Homo sapiens: one gene and its partners. The protein of the gene in region 4 interacts with the protein of the main gene of each other region in a pairwise test. Each region holds a gene or a part of one and is shown on either strand. Other genes may lie near its edges.

Region 1 (3,177 bases), 9.5 Mb from region 4:
GTGAATTTTTCAAGTTGTCACAAAGCTCCAAATTTCCAATATATTTATTGAAAAAAAAATTGTGGCTGGGCACTGTGGCTCACTCCTGTAATCCCAGCATTTTGGGAGGCCGAGGTGGGTGGATCACGAGGTCAAAAGATCGAGACCATCCTGGCCAACATGGTGAAACCCTGTCTCTACTAAAAATACAAAAATTAGCCGGGCATGGTGGTGTGCACCTGTAATCCCAGCTACTTGGGAGGCCGAGGCAGGAGAATTGCTCAAACCCAGGAGGCGGAGGTTGCAGTGAGCTGAGATGACACTACTGCACTCCAGCCTGGTGACAGTGAGACCCTGTCTCAAAAAAAAAAAAAAAATTGCATATGCACTTCAAGCTTATATTGTTCAAGGGTCTAATGCATAATTTTTTTAGTAAACTCAATTAGTGGATTCCCCAAATTGTGAGATAAATCTTTTATGTAAATTCATGTGTTTTACAGATATGTGAAGAAATCCCACAATACACTAATTACAGTCTTATTAAAATCTCAACTCTATTATAGATTTTGCATGTCAAGAAATCTTTTAGGTTCTGCTATTCCTCAGACTGTTCCTGACTTCATTGAGGGTTTCAGAGGATAAATCAGGGGTCAGACTGGTAGAGTCACATAGAGAAAGAAAGAAAATAAGAAAAATGCTAGGAAAACCAGGCAGCATCTCAATTCCTCCAGAATGGTCTTCACAAACTGGCATCACTGTTATGCTGGCAATAAATTTGCAAATCTCACACACCTCTTCTAGTGTAAGTAGGAAACACAGACATTCAGGCTAGGTGCAAGGGGCTAACACCTGTAATCCCAGCACTTTGGGAGGCCAAGATTGCTTGAACCCAGGAGTTCAAGACCAGCCTGGGCAACACGACGAGACCTCATCTCAACAAAAAAATTTAAAAGTTAGCTGGGTGTGGTGGGGCACAGTTGTAGTCCCAGCTACTTGGGAGGCTGAGGTGGAAGGATCCATTGAGCCCAGGAGGTTCAGAGTGCAGTGGGCTATGATTGTGCCACTGCACTCCAGCCTGGGTGAGAGCAAGACCATCTAAAAAACAAGAACAACAACAACAACAAAAAAAGGCATGCAGAGCTAATTTTTTTTTAATATCCACACATCTAAAAGTTGAATAATTAAAGAAAAATTAATCAGCACTGATTGACTCTGGAAGAGTATTAAATTAGCTTTCTCTTTGAAGTAGACCTCAGGCTTAACTTACCTCAAGCTCTTTTGATTCTGAGAGCCTATATGCCTATACTGTATAAGTTAAACAGTGCATCAGTCCTTTCTATCACTTTAAATTCAGACTAGGACTAAAAAATTTTAGTTAGAAATTACAAGTTTATTTTTATATTTTGAAAAAGGCATAATAGAAAACAAAAATAAACAACCAGGCATATCAATATTTGTGACATACACATACACACAAAAATGAATATAGGAAATAACACGAAGAAAAAGCATAGTATGTTTTGAAACCAACGTGGGGTATGAACAGATTTTTGATGAAATACAACTAAAGGTTTTAAGTGTCTATGTAATGTTCGAGATATTACGATCACTCTTATCCTACTAGCAAAAATTAGCAAACTAGGCTTTAAAACATGATTCCTGTTGTTTTAGCAGGATTTATTTTGGTAATGATCCTGCTTCCTTATAAACAACTACTTATCATTGTTGAAGTCTTCTTGTGTTAAGGAGTACAATGAGGCCAGGCGCAGTGGCTAACACCTGTACTCCCAGCACTTTCGGAGGCTGAGGCGGGAGGGTCGTTTGAACCCAGGAGTTCAAGACCAGCCTCAACAACATGGCAAAACTCTGTCTCTACAGAAAATACAAAAATTAGCCAGGCGTGGTGGCGCGTGCCTATAGTCCCAGCTACTTGGGAGGCTGAGGTGGGAGGATCACTTGAGCCTGAGAGGTCAAGGCTGCAGTGAGGTCAAGATTGGGCCACACCACACTCTCAGCAACCTGGGTGACAGAGTGAGATCCTGTCTTTAAAAAAAAAAAAAAAAAAAGGAAAGAAAAGAACAAAACAAAAAACAAAACTGATGTACATGTTTTAAAGCAAAATAGAACCCCAAGTCTAAAAGTAAAATAAGCCAAGGTTAGTTACAATACTGATTAAAAAGAGTATATCCTGAGGCAGTTGTTAGTATATCACTCTCTATTATATGCACAATAACCTCTGATAGGTAAAATATCTGAGCATTTTGCAAGGTAAACCTCCAAAGTTATACCACAGTGTGCCTTTTTCTTTGCTGTTTCTTCTTTGCCTATTCCTACAGCTACCAGTAAACACTTAGGAACTGCTTTGTATGCCAGGGTCTCCAAGACTACCTCCAGGTTCCATGATTTGCTAGGAGAATTCACAAGACTCAGCATATCATCACACAGCTATGATTTATTACAGCAAAAGCATATGAAGCAAAACAGCAAAGAGAAAAGGTACAGAGGCAAAGTCTGGGGGAAACCAGGTATAAGCTTCCAGAGTCCTCTAACAGTGGAGTCACACATATCTGTTGTTTCATTCCACCAGCAACTGAATTGTGACAACATGTGAGAAATGTTGTTTACCAGGGAAACTTGTTAGAGATACAGTGCCCAGGGTTTTTACTGGGGGCTGGTCACGTAGGTACCTTCTACCTACCATGTACCAAAATTCTAGACTCCCAGGAAGAAAGCAGGTTTTCAGCACAAACCACAGGTTAGCTACCATGAACGACTCTTTTCAGTGAGTGGAGCCCTCCTGTTAAGGTTTAAATATGTCCCCCAAAGTTCAAGTGTTGGAAATTTAATTGACATTGTAAAAGTGTTATGAGACCTTTAAAAAGTAATTAGGTAAGGAGGGCTTTGCCCTCATTAATGAATTAGTGCTGCTATCTTGGGAGTGGGCTCATGATAAAAGGCTAAGTTTAGACCCATATATCTTTCTCATGCTCACTTGCCATGTGGTGCCTTCTGCCATGGCAAGACCCTCACTAGATGCTGGCACCATGTTCTTGGACTGCCTAGCCTCCACACCTGTCAACCAAATAAACTTCTGTTCATTATAAAATACTTAGTTTGTGTAATTCTGTTATGACAGCAGAACAGACTAAGATACCTTCTGATATCTAAGTTCCCAGATGCAACAGCTGAGGACAAACC
Region 2 (4,941 bases), on a different chromosome or scaffold from region 4:
CACTAGCAATCAGGGAACTGCAAATTAACACAACAAGAAACCATTTGTCACCCTTCATGCTAGAGAAAAATAGATTGATGATCTCAGGTGTTGGCAAGGGTTTGGAGAAAGGGCACTCTCATAGATTACGGAAAGTGTGAATTCGTACATTTTCTAGGAGAGTGCAATATCATTAAAATAAAATATGTGGGTCCCCTGTGGCCTCAACATCCCAAGAGCTGGCACACACCCACCCTAGAGGAAATTCTCAGGTGAGTACAAGGCAGTTTGTGCCCAGGTAATTACAGCTGTGTTGTCTGTAGTGGGTAAAAACTGGAAACAATACAAATATCCAATGGCTAAACTGAAAAATTGTTTCTTGGCATCCTGTGTGGGTGTTAAAAGGGAAAGGGAGATGGATATTGCAATGAGGCAAGATCTCCGAGACCCAGTGTGGAGCAGAACCACTCATGGAAGAGCCATGAGTCCAGCACATTCCCATATGCCATTTTCCAAGCAACACAAGTATATAAAACATTAGGAAAAGTCCAAAGGATGCCCCTCAATTCCCAGCAGGGGTAACCTCTGGAAAATGGGAGAAAGAGGTGTCAAAACATAGCTCACCTTTTGAAGAATGCTTTGAGTCTTTGCAAATACTGATGCATTAAAAATGCCTTTGCAGGGGAAAGGGTGAACGCAACCTTGGACTCTTTCATTAAATTATAGAATTTAGATGGGAGGAGACAGCTCTGCTTCTTAACTCTGTGTGAGGTTATTCCACAGCTGGAGCTTCAGGTTCAATTTTCAGGAGTCTCACATTAGAGCAGCAGGTGGACAAATAAGGGAGGCTATCTAGGAAGAGCAGGTGAAGGGCCTAGACTTTCCAAGAAGTGACTGAGGTTGTTTCAATACCTAAAACCCCAGGCTCTCTGAAAGCCCTGAGTAACACCCAGCAGGAGAAGATCCCATCAGGACTGATGGGTACCAGACCCTTTGGAACCATTGGAAAAAGAATTCTTAAACAGATCTGCCCAAAGACAAGTATGCACTACATCAGGAAGAACTGAGTCCACCATCAAAAGAAGTATGCAGGCACACACCAGGCCAGCCAGGCAAGGTGCTTACAGAAAATACTCCCTGAGCCCGCCCTTCCTCCATCAAGTTCCCAAGTTCCCTCCAACTTGATGATTCTGATTCTCTTTCTGCCAGAACAGAAACACAATCTGCTTCACACAATCCATAAATACTTAATTGCTTGGTGCTTTTTAGTAAGGTTCTACTGCTCACAGAATTGCACATATTTTAGACTTTTCACCTCTGACACCTGTTCTCTGGGTCCCATTTAGACCAGTTGCACCAGAGGAGAGCTCAAGCCTGTGCCCTCCCACGCATAACTTAATCACAGGCATCCCAGCCCTTCCTCCTCCTTCTCTCATGGACCGGCACCACCTGCCCAACCCTCCGCTCCCACCCACAGAGGCATAAACTCACATACAGCCAAAAAGCCAAGTCCTCCATAATTTCCATTTCAAGTTTGCTTCCTCTTACTGCCAGGGAGACAAAGGGAGCTTAGAAGGATTCTCATGAGAAGCCACTCAACTTCCATGATTGGAACAGTTGTGGATGCGCCTCTCCAACCCAGAGAAAGGCAATCCATCATGGAGTGCTGAAGGCTGAATCCCCCATTCCTAGTAAAAGGATTAATTAAAACCTTAAGGGTCGGCCATGGCAGCCTCTGCTTGAAACTCTAAGGAAATTAACCTGCCCTCCCAGATAAAGAAAAGTCAGAGATTTATTCAGGCCGGTACCTTAGTTTGACCAAGTGACACAGTGTCAATAGTCTTAACAAAGAAATCTTCCAATACTTGCCCGGGTTTATTGTTTAAATTTTCAAATGGGGGGGGGAGGGATCCAGTGCCCACACAGCTGCCTGTAATGAGTCCTCTAGGCAGTTTATCGGGAAGCTCTGGTGTGTTCCAGTGCAGGAATCCCTCCCCACAAAGCCAGCCTTCACCCGGGCCCCAGGGATTCTGATGCCCACCATTTAACATCATCAAGTCCCCATCTGGGGTCGTTGCATTTAGAGAGAATAAGTCTTCAAAGGCAGGCGAAGCAACTTGTTATCAAAACAGAATCTACGAAGGAATTGTGCTTCTCTAAGATACAAAACTGAGTCCTGTGGCTTGATACCAAAACACCAGCTTTGATTCTTTTTTTGAACCCTACATTTCAGAAGCCCAGACTTCTCCCTGTGAAGTGAAAATTGCCTTCTGGTGGAGAGAGGTTTTAATGATCACTTTGCTTCCTGCGTCTCCATGGTGACAGGCGCACACAGCCCACCCCCCCCCCCACCTCCCCCCCCGCTTTATTAGGCCTTTCTTCCTCTCTGGAAAGTAATCAATCAAGCCCTATAGACGCCTTTGTGACCGGTTTATCACCTAAACAATCAACGCTGCCATGGGGGTGGAAGAGTGGACGGAGTCCACACGCTGTCACGAAACCGGGCTCTGTCCTGGCGCACGCCCTTCGTCTCCCTGCCGGCGGCTCTGCCCAGCACACCTGTCCGGGGGCTAGCGCGCCCAGGTGCGCCAGGCCCCGCTGGAGTCAGGCGCCTGGTGGAAGCCCTCAGCGCGGTGGCCTCAGCTGCGGAGCGCTGCCTTCCAGGAGCAGATGCCCAAGCGGGGACGTCCGGAGCTGGGGCCCGGCAGTGGGGAGGGAGGGAATGGCCCAGAACCGGCGCTGGGCGGAGGCGGCCACGGGTCTGCCTCTCTTCCCCCAGCCGGTCAGCACCCGAGGAAAGGAAGCCTCCTTCGAGGGGACGGCAGAGCTCACCAGCCGGAGAGGAGGGGAAGCTGCAGCGCCCGGCTCTACCCAGGAAATCAGCTCTTTTATGGACAAAGGGCTCCGAGGCGCCCCAGCCCTGCGAGACTGGGGATAGGAACCGCGGGGCCGAGCGCGGGTTCCTGCCGCGGCTCCCCGAATGCAGGCGGGGCGCGGAGCCTCGCGGGGTCCTGCTCTCAGCGCCACCTGCCTCGGGCCTCCCCGACCCGCCCGCCGCCCCCGCCCAGCCCGTTACCTGGGTTCTCCCCGGCGTCCGCGGAGGAGGTGGCCGAGGAGTCGGTGAGGACGCTGGGGTCACTCTGCGAGCGGCCCCGCGACACGAGGCAGCCGCTCCCGTCCTCCGACGCGGCCATGGGCCCGGCCGGCGCGGGGGCAAGTTAGAGCGAGCCGCGTGGAATCAGAGCATCCGAGGCGGCCAAGGTCACCGGCGAGGGGGCTGGAGGGGGCGTCTTTTTAAAAAAGAAAATTAAAAAAAAAAAAAAAAAAAAAAGGCCGGGAAAGGAAACGAGCTGGAGAAAGACGCCGGGGCTGGCTTCAGGGCGGGGAGACAATAGCCTCGCCGGCTGCAGCCAGGCGCATCCCGGCGTGCGCGGCCTCGCTTTGTTATTTATTCGTGTTTATTCCCATTCTTCAGTCTATATTCCAGGGAAAAAAAAAAAAGTTGAACCAGGAAATAAAAACTTTTTCTTGTCAGTGTTTATTGCGTGCTTGGGGCAGGGGGTGATGTCCTGGAATGTCTGGGGGCGCTCCCTCCCCCCACCCCACCCCCCACCCCCCCAGGAAAAAAGGGAAAAGGAAGAATCTTTGCTCTTGCAATTGCTTTAATCTGAAAGCTGTTCTTGGAGCATCTGTTGGAAAACATTAGGATTCTCCCATCATGCCGCGCGAGAGGAGCATGACGTCACGGGAGAGGGGCGTGAGAAGGCGCGTGGCCACTGGGAGGGGTCGCACATACCTGGACCGCGCGCCGGGGTGGGGGAGGAGGGGCTGGACCCCGGGTTAGGAGCCGCCCACCCCACCAAGCCGTGCTCTAGAAACAGGAAAGCTTCCTAGTCCCGTTTCCTCCCCTCCCGGAGGAAAGGGAACCCTGAGAGCCCCTAATTTCCCCAGCAGCTGCAGACAGCTGGTTTCCCTGGTCCTTCCTCTCCTGGGACTGGGAGGCCAGTGGGTCCCGACGCGCCCACCCCGGCACCGGAGGGGAGCGACCTGAGGCTTCCTCCCCGCAACCACCTGGCCTGGGCCTGCTAGGGCACCCCGGACCCTCCGAACCCTCGCTCCGAACCCTCCTCCCTGCCGGGGGGCGGGGGGGCGGGGGAGAGGGAGGAGGGCACGGGCGCTTTCCAATGAGGCTTTTCCTCAGACGCCCTTAGGAACCTGAGGGGCCAGGCAAGGGAGGCGACACCCCCCAGGGCTGCCACTCACAGAGGTGTCCTCCAGGGTGCTAAGGAGCGATTCTCACAACCCCAGCGGTGGTGTGGGGTGAACACAGGCAGGCAGCCGCTGCTTCCCCAGCCAGGGCAGGGAAGGAAGAAAGTCCAGGAAAGGGGTAGAGACGGGGGTGGAATGGTGGTGTCACCTGGCCTGGTCCTGGAAGGTGCCCAGAGGAGGAGGCATTTCAACAGACACCAGGATTCAAGGACCACAGAGACACCTGGGGGAGGACACCCCCATTTCAATTTCTCAACCCCATGGGGCAGCCCCGCTCTAAGCCCCCTTTGCAGGTGCTGGAAGGGGTGGGGGCAAGCGGGGAGAGTCGCTCACCAAGGGTCCTCCTGCTGGGGACAGAGCCCTCCCTAAGGCTGCCCCCATCAGATTAGCACCTACAGCAGGGCCTGGGAGTGCAGTGTGAGCGCTGGCAGTGTGGACGAAATCCCGGTTAAGCGCCAAGGACAGAACTGAGCGGGGTGGTGGTGGGGAGGGGGAATAAAGTGGATGTTCACTCCACACAGAGCTTTGGGCTCTTAGCAGCAGTTATTTCAGCAGCATCAGTCACCTCTAAAGAAAGGACTCATTCATTCATTCAGACTGTGTGCAGAGTCGAGTGTGTGCCAGGCACCACACCAGGCATTAGGGACCTAGCAGTGCACAAACACAGAGACGCCCCAACTCCTTGAGTCTTCC
Region 3 (4,348 bases), on a different chromosome or scaffold from region 4:
ACTATATCTACTATTAAATAGTATTTACACTGAGATAGTAATGGGTTAAAGTACTAAGTAAAAATTAGATTTATAGACTCTTTAATCAAGGAAATAATGCAATTTGATTTCAAAGGCTTTAAAAATATCAGAACACAATCAAACTTGTAAAATTTCAGGAGCTAGATCTTTCTCTTCTTTTTTTGAACACATATTGATATTTAGGAAAAACAAGTCCATGAAACATAGTTCTGGGAAATCCTTGGTTGAAGAGGTCCATGACATGGGTCTTCATCAGAATCAGAAAAAGATTTTATTATCACGGAAGAGAACTAATGGTTTGTCCATTGGGGAATGCCCTGCTCTAGGCTGTGGAAGGAGTAAGCACCTACACATGTAGCTGCCCTTTGATCATGGTCTCTGCATTGCTCATTGTCTGACCATTAATGTTTCAGCGGCAAATTGAACAAATGGACTTTTCCTTTAACCCTTCTTGTAGTATCATTTTGTTAAAATCTTAACAACCCTGAGGTCAAACATATTAACTTTAAAAGTCAGTGTGTTCAGGGAAGCCCCTGATGTCCCTGCCCTCTTGCCCCATTCCATAAACAGCCGTGCCTGTGCTCATCCTAATAAGAGGGCTGTGCTGGCATATTCTCAATTTATATCAATGTCTTACAACTTCAAGTTCTAGTTTAGATAGCATGAATATATTTTTGCAGAAGGTCACTTTAACTTTACCAAGCTTTAGACACATCAAAATATGGATGATAATTCCCATGTTACTTTATTGGGTTACTGTGAAGAAAATAATGTATTTTCTACATCTGAGTAATAACAGTCTTTCAAATGACAAAAGTGATCCTTGTCCTCCCTTGTTTAAGACTTTAAACAGATTTATATTACTCTTAGATGAAGCCCAAGCCCCTTAGCATAGAAAACTTTGTCATTTATGATGTGGCTTACTATGTCTCATCTCTTAAAAGTCTCCTCCATTTTCCTCTAAAGACAAATCACACTGATTTCAGTTTCTGCAATTTCTTACACATTCTAAACTCCTCACCATAGGGCCTTTGTACATGCTGCCCTCACATTCACATACACCCTCACATACACCCTCACATACACCCTCAAGCCAACCCACACATCCCATCCCTCCCATTTCCCATCCTGGCTTTCTCCTCGTCATAATTTTTGCACTCAATATTACTTCTTCTAGGATACATATAAACTATTCAGTGTGGCTTTTATACAAATAATCTATATAAGTTGTACACTGCTTTTTCATTTTGTCCCCAAACCACCAAAACATTGGTAGATGGTCCATTTATAAGGAAGATGATGATAACATCTTGTTCATTTTGAGATAGGAAGAGATTATTTGCACTTTGAAATCACCTTTTTATTTTTCTACAAAAATATTTAATAGGCTAACTGCACAAAATTCAGTTGAATATGAATGGATATAGATGCCAGATGCCTATACTGGGGAAAAATATGTTAGAGAGATCCTACTTTATTTCCCATTGTTTATTAGCTGTGTGACATTGGGCAATTTATAACAACAAGACAACAAAAAAACACCTCTGAGCTTCAATTTTCTAAATTCCTTATACATTATAGAGTCCTGTTAATTAAACCTTCATTATAATAGATACTGACAGGGATAGGTATTTCTGTCCATCTTAGAACTACAGGATCTTCTGTGAAAAAAAAAATTCAGAGCAAAAAACATTTTCATTATTAACATATAAACAAGTCTTCTATAAAATAAACTTTTTCAAACAGATTTTGCAATTGGATTTCTAGTTTCAGCACTGACCTGCTGCTATTGACAAGCCACTCTGTCCCTTTACTCCATGAAAACTTTGGTTTCGGTGCAGCTTTAGGTTTGCATTCAATTATCACCCTTCCACCTTTAGCAGCCAGGATCTTTTTCTTCATAGGATTCATTTCAAAAGTTGGAGCCAACGCTAAAAAGAAAACAAATTGTTATCTTTCTCTTTCTGTTTGTAAAGCCTAAACATTGCTTCTGTGTTGTAGAATCTTTTATTCTCCTTAATAGTTAATGGAAAGGATTAATCTCGGTAAATATGATCAGCTGTCACCAATAGGCATTCTATACCTAATGCTTTGTAACTTTTATTTAATAACTTTGACTTATAAAATTCACCCAATTCAAATGTACAATTCTTGATGATAACTGAATTGATTATTAGAAACTTTAATTAGAATCCAGGCATGGGTGGCTCACACCTATAATCCCAGCAGTTTCAGAGGCTGAGGTGGGCAGATGGCTTACCCAGGAGTTTGAGAGCAGACTGGGTAACACGGCAAAACTCCATCTCTACCTAAAATACAAAAAAATTAGCTGGGCATGTTGGTGCATGCCTGTAGTCCCAGCTATCCAGGAGGCTGAGGTGGAGGATCACCTGAACCTAGAAGGTCAAGGCTGCAGTGAAGCGTGATCGCCTCACTGCACTCCAGGCTGGGCAACACCGTGAGACCCTGTCTCAATAAATAAATAACTTCAATTTCAATCAAATGTTTTATACACATTTACCTTAAAATTAACTCTGAATTCTGTTGCTTTGACTCAATTCCACAAGGAAAGTAAAGTGAAAGGCTGGAAAAAATTGACCAGCATTATACACACTGACATATGGTCCTAGTCAATCCTCTAAACCACATGTTGAATGAACTATTCCCAGTTTATAAATGAGAAAATTGAAATCTATTAGGATTATTTAATTTGGCAAAGGTACCACAGGTAGTAATAAGTGGGAGTCACATTTGAATCTAGGTCCTTCTGTTTCCAAAGCATGTACTTTTCATTAAACAATGCAGTCTCTCCTTCTTTATACAATTACTGAGCATCATCTGTATGCAAACACCCTGCAAAATGCCAAAATAATTGGAGTCCTGCTTTCAGGATCTATCTATAAACAGCTATGGGAATAATGGATCTAATCAACTAATTAAGGAGACATGATCATTTGTAGTTCATCATTACCTCCAAGTACAGAGCAATAATTATTAGAACAGAATACAGAGGCTTAAAAAAGGTTACTTCATTGATGTCATGCTCAGACTTTCCTCAGCATCCACACATTTAATCCACTGCTCACTCTCCTCTTCCCTTGGCAGACTCCAAGCAGATTTCATCCATATATTTCAACACATTACAATCATCCGTAACTATGTACTTTCTGGAGGCTTTTCTAGGCCTAAGCATATCTTCATCTGGGTTTTGACTCTTCATCCTCTGGTCTGGTCATTCTCAAAATTATCTTTGTATTAAAATCATCTGGGTATCTTTTTAAAGTGTCCATTCAGTAGGTCTGGGGTGAGCCTGGGATTCTGCACTTCTAATGTGCTCCTAGGTATGGCCACTGCTGCTGATGCTCTGAAGAAGACTTTTGTTGTGGCAAAGATTCATTCTATTCCATTGTTTCGTTAGTCTGAATTATGATAATTAGCAATAAATAAATCAGTAAACAACCAACATATGTTGTACACCTAACACAATACTGGGTATTTTGTGTAGGCTCAATAAACATTTTGTGTGATATGACATATTGCTTTAACAATGTTTAACAGAAATTAGAAATGATACTGACCCAAGATCTTCAACTCAGCATTTGCATAAATGGCTCCATATGTGTTTTCAGCTATGCACTGATACATTCCGGCATTTTCAAAAGTCACATCATACAGTCTTAATTCCCCTTTATGATACTGAAAAGAATAAAATTGAAACATATTCTCAATGAACTTTAATAGAAATACTTTCACTTAGGTCTGGGTTTGGTTGTCTTTTCATTTAGATACATTATGTTCATCTGCCCCCACTGTTACCTAAGATGAACTGAGTGGGATTTTCATGGCATGGGAAAGGAAAACCCACTTACCATGCCCAAAGGCTCTTGTTCTATTCATCCTACAGAGCTGAGAGTCCACCTTTTCCCCTCTTGGACCAGCTGGGAGATTACAGTGGGAAGGTAGAGAAGAATCCCACTGCTGCTACTTGTCCCCAGGGCCAAAGGTAGGACTTAGAGCTTCACTCTTACCTCTGTCTCTGTGGGGTACAGGAAAATAGTGGCAAGAAAAAGAGGACAATATCAGGTATTGGAGATGGATGAGTAGGAAGAGGGTGGAAAAGTGGAACAAAGGAAAAAAATAAGGAGAGAGAGAGAGAGAAGGTAGAGTAAGATTACAGAAAGTTGTTTAAACTGAAAGAAGATACTTTATGTTCAGTTTTTGTCTTTTTTAGGAAGCTTTTATATTTCAGGGCCCAAGTGCCCTTTCTGTATTGTCTCTCCTGCTAAATTTATCCCAGGACTACCCTGAAACACTGCTTGAACAGGGA
Region 4 (5,352 bases):
TCACATGGAGAGGCATCAGGTAAAACTGCAATTGATTAATATGCCATACATGATGAACCTACTTAGGGTAGAGCTTCTATTGATTTTTAATTCAATAGTAAACAGGTACTGAAAAGGCTGGGAGCAGGTCAGCGGTTCAGACAACGGTCCACTTGCTGACTAGATCACTAACTAAATGTGCTCTATATAAAACACACCAAAGTATCAAATGGAAAACAGTGCTTGCAAATAATTTCATAACCAATACTATGCAGGTGTCTTAACTGAGAAGCAAAGGTGATGTTTGCTTGGATTTTATTTGAAAACCCGATTTGATTCATGATCTACTTCTCCTTAGGTATGGACCCCAGTGTAATGACATAATTGGCTCAGCCTTTAAGATTTAAAGCCTCTGTTCCCAAGCTGCAGTGGCTGGAGCAATAGGAAATGAGAAACAAGGCAATCTCACATTGAAGTGGCTACTTAAGGATCCCTAAGGTGTAGTCATGATTTCCAGCCATGCAGTTGTTTGGAATTAGAAATCCTGATTCCTACTGTAAACTGAACATTGCAAAGCTGGTAGGATTAATTCAATGGAAGAAACTTGGTTTCTTGCTTGGAGGCATGTGGATGAATAAGAACTCTTGTGCATTGCTGGCAGGAATGTGAGTCAGTACAATCACTTTTGGACAGGGACATGGCATCTTCATAGACTTGAAGATATGTAGCAACTCTACTCCTATGTATCTGCCCTAAAGACACTCTTACACATGTTCACAAGAATTCTCACTGCAAAGATGTTGGTAGAAGCAAAATTTTGGAAGATGTCATTTAAGAAATACGTTGTGGTGTAGCAATTAAAACTAAAGCTATCAGGCAAATGATAAAATAGAGCAGGGGTGGCCATACTCATGTCAGAAAAAAATGCTTTACCGCCAGGCACAATGGCTCACACCTGTAATTCCAGCACATTGGGAGGCTGAGGAAGATTGCTTGAGCCCAGGGGTTCAAGACCAGCCTGGGTGACATGGGGGAGACCCTGTCTCTATAAACAAATTTTAAAAGTACTATAAAAAATGTAAAAACTAGCTGGGCATGTTGATTCATGCCTGTGGCTCCAGCTACTCAGGAGGCTGAGGCAGGATTGCCTGAGCCTGGGAAGTCAAGGTTGCAGTGAGCTATGATCATGTCACTGTACTGCAGCCTGGGCCAGAGAGTAAGACCCTGTCTCAAAGGAAAAAAACAGTCAAAAACTGTGACAAGAGACAGAGTAGAGAACCCAGAAATAAATTCTCATCTATATGGTCAAATGATCTTTAACAAAGGTGCCAGCTACTCCTAGGTACTCAAGAGGTTGAGGTGGGAGGATCACTTGAGCCTAGGTTCAAGGTTGCAGTGAGCTGTGATCACACCACTGCACTTCAGCCTGGGTGGCAGAGAAAGAAAGACTTTGCCTCTTGGAGTATTTCATCTTCATTACCCTATAAAGATACTTTGATTGCAAGTGGAGACAAAGTAATTGGCACATAAAATTTTTATTGGAAATTGACTTTACAACTTAGTACTCAGCCTGGGTCACCCTAAAGCAAGCATATTTTATATAAGGGGTTTCAGTTTTACTTTCTTCTTCCTTTGATGACTATGTTTGGACTTTTTAATGCCAACAAGTCAGATCATTGTGTAGATGGCCACTAAACTGCCAAGGTGACAGTTTAACGAATGTGGATTAAGTCCAGGAGCCAAGTTTCCCAGTAAGAAAAATCCTAGGTCTCCTTCAGGGAAGACAGCATTTTAGAGTCAAAGCTAATTATTCTCAAAATCAACATACGTTTGCAAAAAATTGGTTATAATGGAGGATCAGGGACCAATGTCTGCTGCCCGTTGCTTCCTTTACATCCTGTCTGATGCTCTCATGACACTCAAAGCCTCTGCACTTGTCACCCCACCCAGCTCCAACTAAAAGTGTCCCATTTTTTTTTTCCCCACAAATCAATTCTCATGACTGCACTTCAGAGCTTGTCCTCTTAAGGTAATTTGAGTATGTTTAAATTAATAACGTGACAGTATTCAACCAGAAAATAAATAAATGAATATATATACACACACACACACACACACACACACACACGTGTATATATATGGCTTTGTGAATCCAGATGAAGTCAGTTGTTGAGAAGGTAGGTGGGCAGATATTAATAGAATTGGTGTTGTACAAAACAAGGATGAAAGAAAAGTGAGGTGAAGAGGATGGAGTTGTTGAGAAGGTAGGTGGGCAGATATTAATAGAATTGGTGTTGTACAAAACAAGGATGAAAGAAAAGTGAGGTGAAGAGGATGGTTTTGTAGCTGGATAGGTAAAAGGGTAAGTTCTTACGCAAAGATGTATTACAGAGCAAATCTCAAGTTTTCTGACTGCACAGTTCAAAGTTTCAACTACACATTTTACCTAACAGTTTTGAAATATTATAAAGCTTTATTCCATTCTAATATGTGATGGTTTAAGTCAAAAGACTTGAACCTTCTCAGCCTTTCAGACTAGCAATTTATGGCCATAATTCAAAGTGATTCTGGTAGTAATTTTCATTCTAGCAGAAAATTTTCATTAACCCAAGAGTGAAACAGGAGCTGTATTTGCTGGCCATGTTTTATTTGTCCTTTTTCTTCAAACAGGATAACCAAAGATACAGACAGTATTCAATAAAATAAAATAGATGAAACAAATTCTAAGAGACTGCGATGCCACATGCTACGTTTAACCTAATTTTATTCATGCTTGCCTTGGGATGGGGAATAGATCATTCAGTAAAAACATACAGTAAAAACAAAATGTCTTATCATGTACAACTTTCAAACTACAATAATGATGTACCTTAATTACTTCCATGCACACAAGTCTAACATTTGTTTTTTTAAAAAATAAACACAATTAAGACTTCTAGGAGCATTTTATAATAAAGTAATTCCTAATTAATTTTTCTTTGTAGATAGATCAAGCACCTCCAAAATACAAATTCCTATACACAGTGAGCACGTTACTTAAAATGAACACTTAAGTAAATTAAGTACGTGGACAGCCTTAGGATAAGCTGACATTATAGATGCAGCTAGGTAGGCAACAAACCATAGTGCCAAATGGAAAAAGTAAAGTATATTTGCAAATAAATTTTAAAAACTAAGTTAATTTTTTATAATTAAATACAGAAAATATACTGATTTGCTAAAATAAATAAGATGTGATGTATTAACACTTCACTATAAAGAATGCATACCAGAACATTTATAAACAGTGAGTGAGTTTTATTAAGAATAGTTTACTACAATAAACGCTGGCTAAATAGAAGTGCATTTTGTGAAGCACTATGGGTGGTATATGTTTTGCCACATACTCTTGTTACCTTGAGGTAGATAACACATGTGTACCAAATTCGGCATTCATTTTCAGTTGCTGCTGGTATCATGTGTTTTAAGAAATGTGTACAGTATGAAAAACTTGAAAATATTCATGAATGAAAAATGTCTTAGGAAAAAAATAGCTATTTTCATGCAATTATGTACAGTCTCACTGTGTAAATTTCAAGGCAAGGTTTGTTTCCTGTAAAACAGATCAATGTTCTATGAGAGAATGTTCTTGTCTTAGTGCATTTCTTTTCTCCTCCTGCGTTGCATTATTTTGCTCTAGTCTTTATTTTTGTGTGCAAATGACATGCCAGTTAAAATGAAAACTATCTCACATGTAGAAAAAGAAAGTCTGGATTTTAAAAAACAAGAACTCATAAAATCCTTACTAAATGACACCATCTGATTCAAGTAAAAAATGACTTAAACACTAGTAATAAAAAAAGACAAAACACATTTCATGAAGAATACAAAGATAAATGTCTGCTGAGTGTTTTAGTTCAGATGTTTCAGAATGCTGCTGTATGTTTGATGAGGAATTTGAGGGGAAGATTTCATAGCAGAAGGTGTTAATGTGGCCTGTATTGACTTAAGTGGTGACCCAACTGGACTGTGAAACTGTGGGATGCCTATGGACTCGAGCTGCTTGTTAAAGAGGAACTCCCCACTGTTGTTCAGAAATCCTTCCTCATGTCCTCTCTCCCCAAGCTTCCCATCCTCTACTGGCTCAGTTTCTAGCATTTCAGTATCTTCTTTCCTGCTAAAGAACTTGTCCAAGTAACTAGTGTAAGTGTTTTCCTTCTCAACTTGTTCATCCTTCCTTACCTCACAAAACTGATTTATGAAAAAACAGTCCTCCCCACCACTCACAAACTGGCTGTCCCAAGAAGACTGGTACAAGGCTTCTAATTGAGCCAGATTTGCCATTCCTTTTTCCTGTTTTTCTTGGCTTACTGACTTTGATATCAAACTTTTCAATTCTAGTTGGGACACTGAGCTATTCAAGTCATTTAATTTATCAACAACATCAGTAGGCTCATGCTGGGAACTAAGCTGAATAGTTCCTGCAATAAAGGAATCAAAATCAAATCCCTGATTCTTTTCCCTTTCTTTTCCAGCCAGTTGCTGTGATGCTTCCTCTAGCGCTATCTGGGCTTTAACCAATCCATTCCTTTCACATTTTGATTTGCCTTTCTTATCAGATTTTTCTTTGCTTTGTTCTTTCCAATTGGAAAGATCTATAATAAGCTTGGGTTCATAGTAATGGTTAACTTCACTCTCTCTCCAAACTAAGTTATCTAAATATGATGATGACCTCGTTTTGTAGTTACAAGTATGGCTACACTCCAGATCACAATATTTGTTTTCATGATGATCTGAGTATTGCCAACAAGGCTCAGTAGAGTAATTGGTATCAAAAGCAGGATCCTCCAGATACTTTTCCCGATCTCCATCCAAATATTTTCGGGGATCAACTTGTACTTCTTCTTCATCAGTGACATCGGACAGAGCTCTTGGATCAAGCTGAACTTCATCAATATCAAAGTTGTTATGTACAGGCCAATCATGCTCTGAAAACTGACAATCATGATACCTGAAAAAAATCAATACACTAGCGTTATTCTACGTATATGATTTCATTTTCAAATTCACCGAGTACCTTCTATGTGACAGCACTGTGCTAGGTCTATGAGGGGATAATTATAGGAGAGTAAATATGCCTGCCTTGCCCTACCAGAACTTAGTCTTGATAGGAAAGCTCTGTTAATATATTTGGTAATTGCCAATGCAGTATGTAACTTCATTTCCAATTTGTTTTTTGTCCACCAGTTCCATGCAAACAAAAGACTTCATAGCCACAAAATGCAGATCTCAAATCTCAATCAGGTACCTTACAAATGTTTACTCTACAGTAAGGGCAACTAGAAGAGGAGGAGGTTTGCTAAATGTTTACTCTACAGTAAGGGCAACTAGAAG

The links.
Region 1: the proteins of MAPK6 (region 4) and HAUS2 interact in a two-hybrid assay, tested with the Homo sapiens proteins (one large-scale study listed by BioGRID and IntAct).
Region 2: the proteins of MAPK6 (region 4) and PHACTR3 interact in a two-hybrid assay, tested with the Homo sapiens proteins (one large-scale study listed by BioGRID and IntAct).
Region 3: the proteins of MAPK6 (region 4) and CNTN1 interact in a two-hybrid assay, tested with the Homo sapiens proteins (one large-scale study listed by BioGRID and IntAct).

What each region holds. Positions count from the first base shown.
Region 1 is NC_000015.10:42,568,166-42,571,342, reverse strand, and holds the end of HAUS2 (HAUS augmin-like complex subunit 2), read right to left. Parts: 3' UTR 1,349-3,177; downstream 1-1,348.
Region 2 is NC_000020.11:59,603,247-59,608,187, reverse strand, and holds the start of PHACTR3 (phosphatase and actin regulator 3), read right to left. Parts: upstream 3,649-4,941; 5' UTR 3,174-3,648; coding exon 3,056-3,173; intron 2,957-3,055; exon of another isoform or gene 2,812-2,956; intron 1-2,811.
Region 3 is NC_000012.12:40,936,939-40,941,286, reverse strand, and holds part of CNTN1 (contactin-1 isoform 1 precursor), read right to left. Parts: intron 3,718-4,348; coding exon 3,600-3,717; intron 1,953-3,599; coding exon 1,802-1,952; intron 1-1,801. UniProt on the Homo sapiens protein: Contactins mediate cell surface interactions during nervous system development.
Region 4 is NC_000015.10:52,063,519-52,068,870, reverse strand, and holds the end of MAPK6 (mitogen-activated protein kinase 6), read right to left. Parts: intron 4,970-5,352; coding exon 3,871-4,969; 3' UTR 1,496-3,870; downstream 1-1,495. UniProt on the Homo sapiens protein: Atypical MAPK protein. Phosphorylates microtubule-associated protein 2 (MAP2) and MAPKAPK5.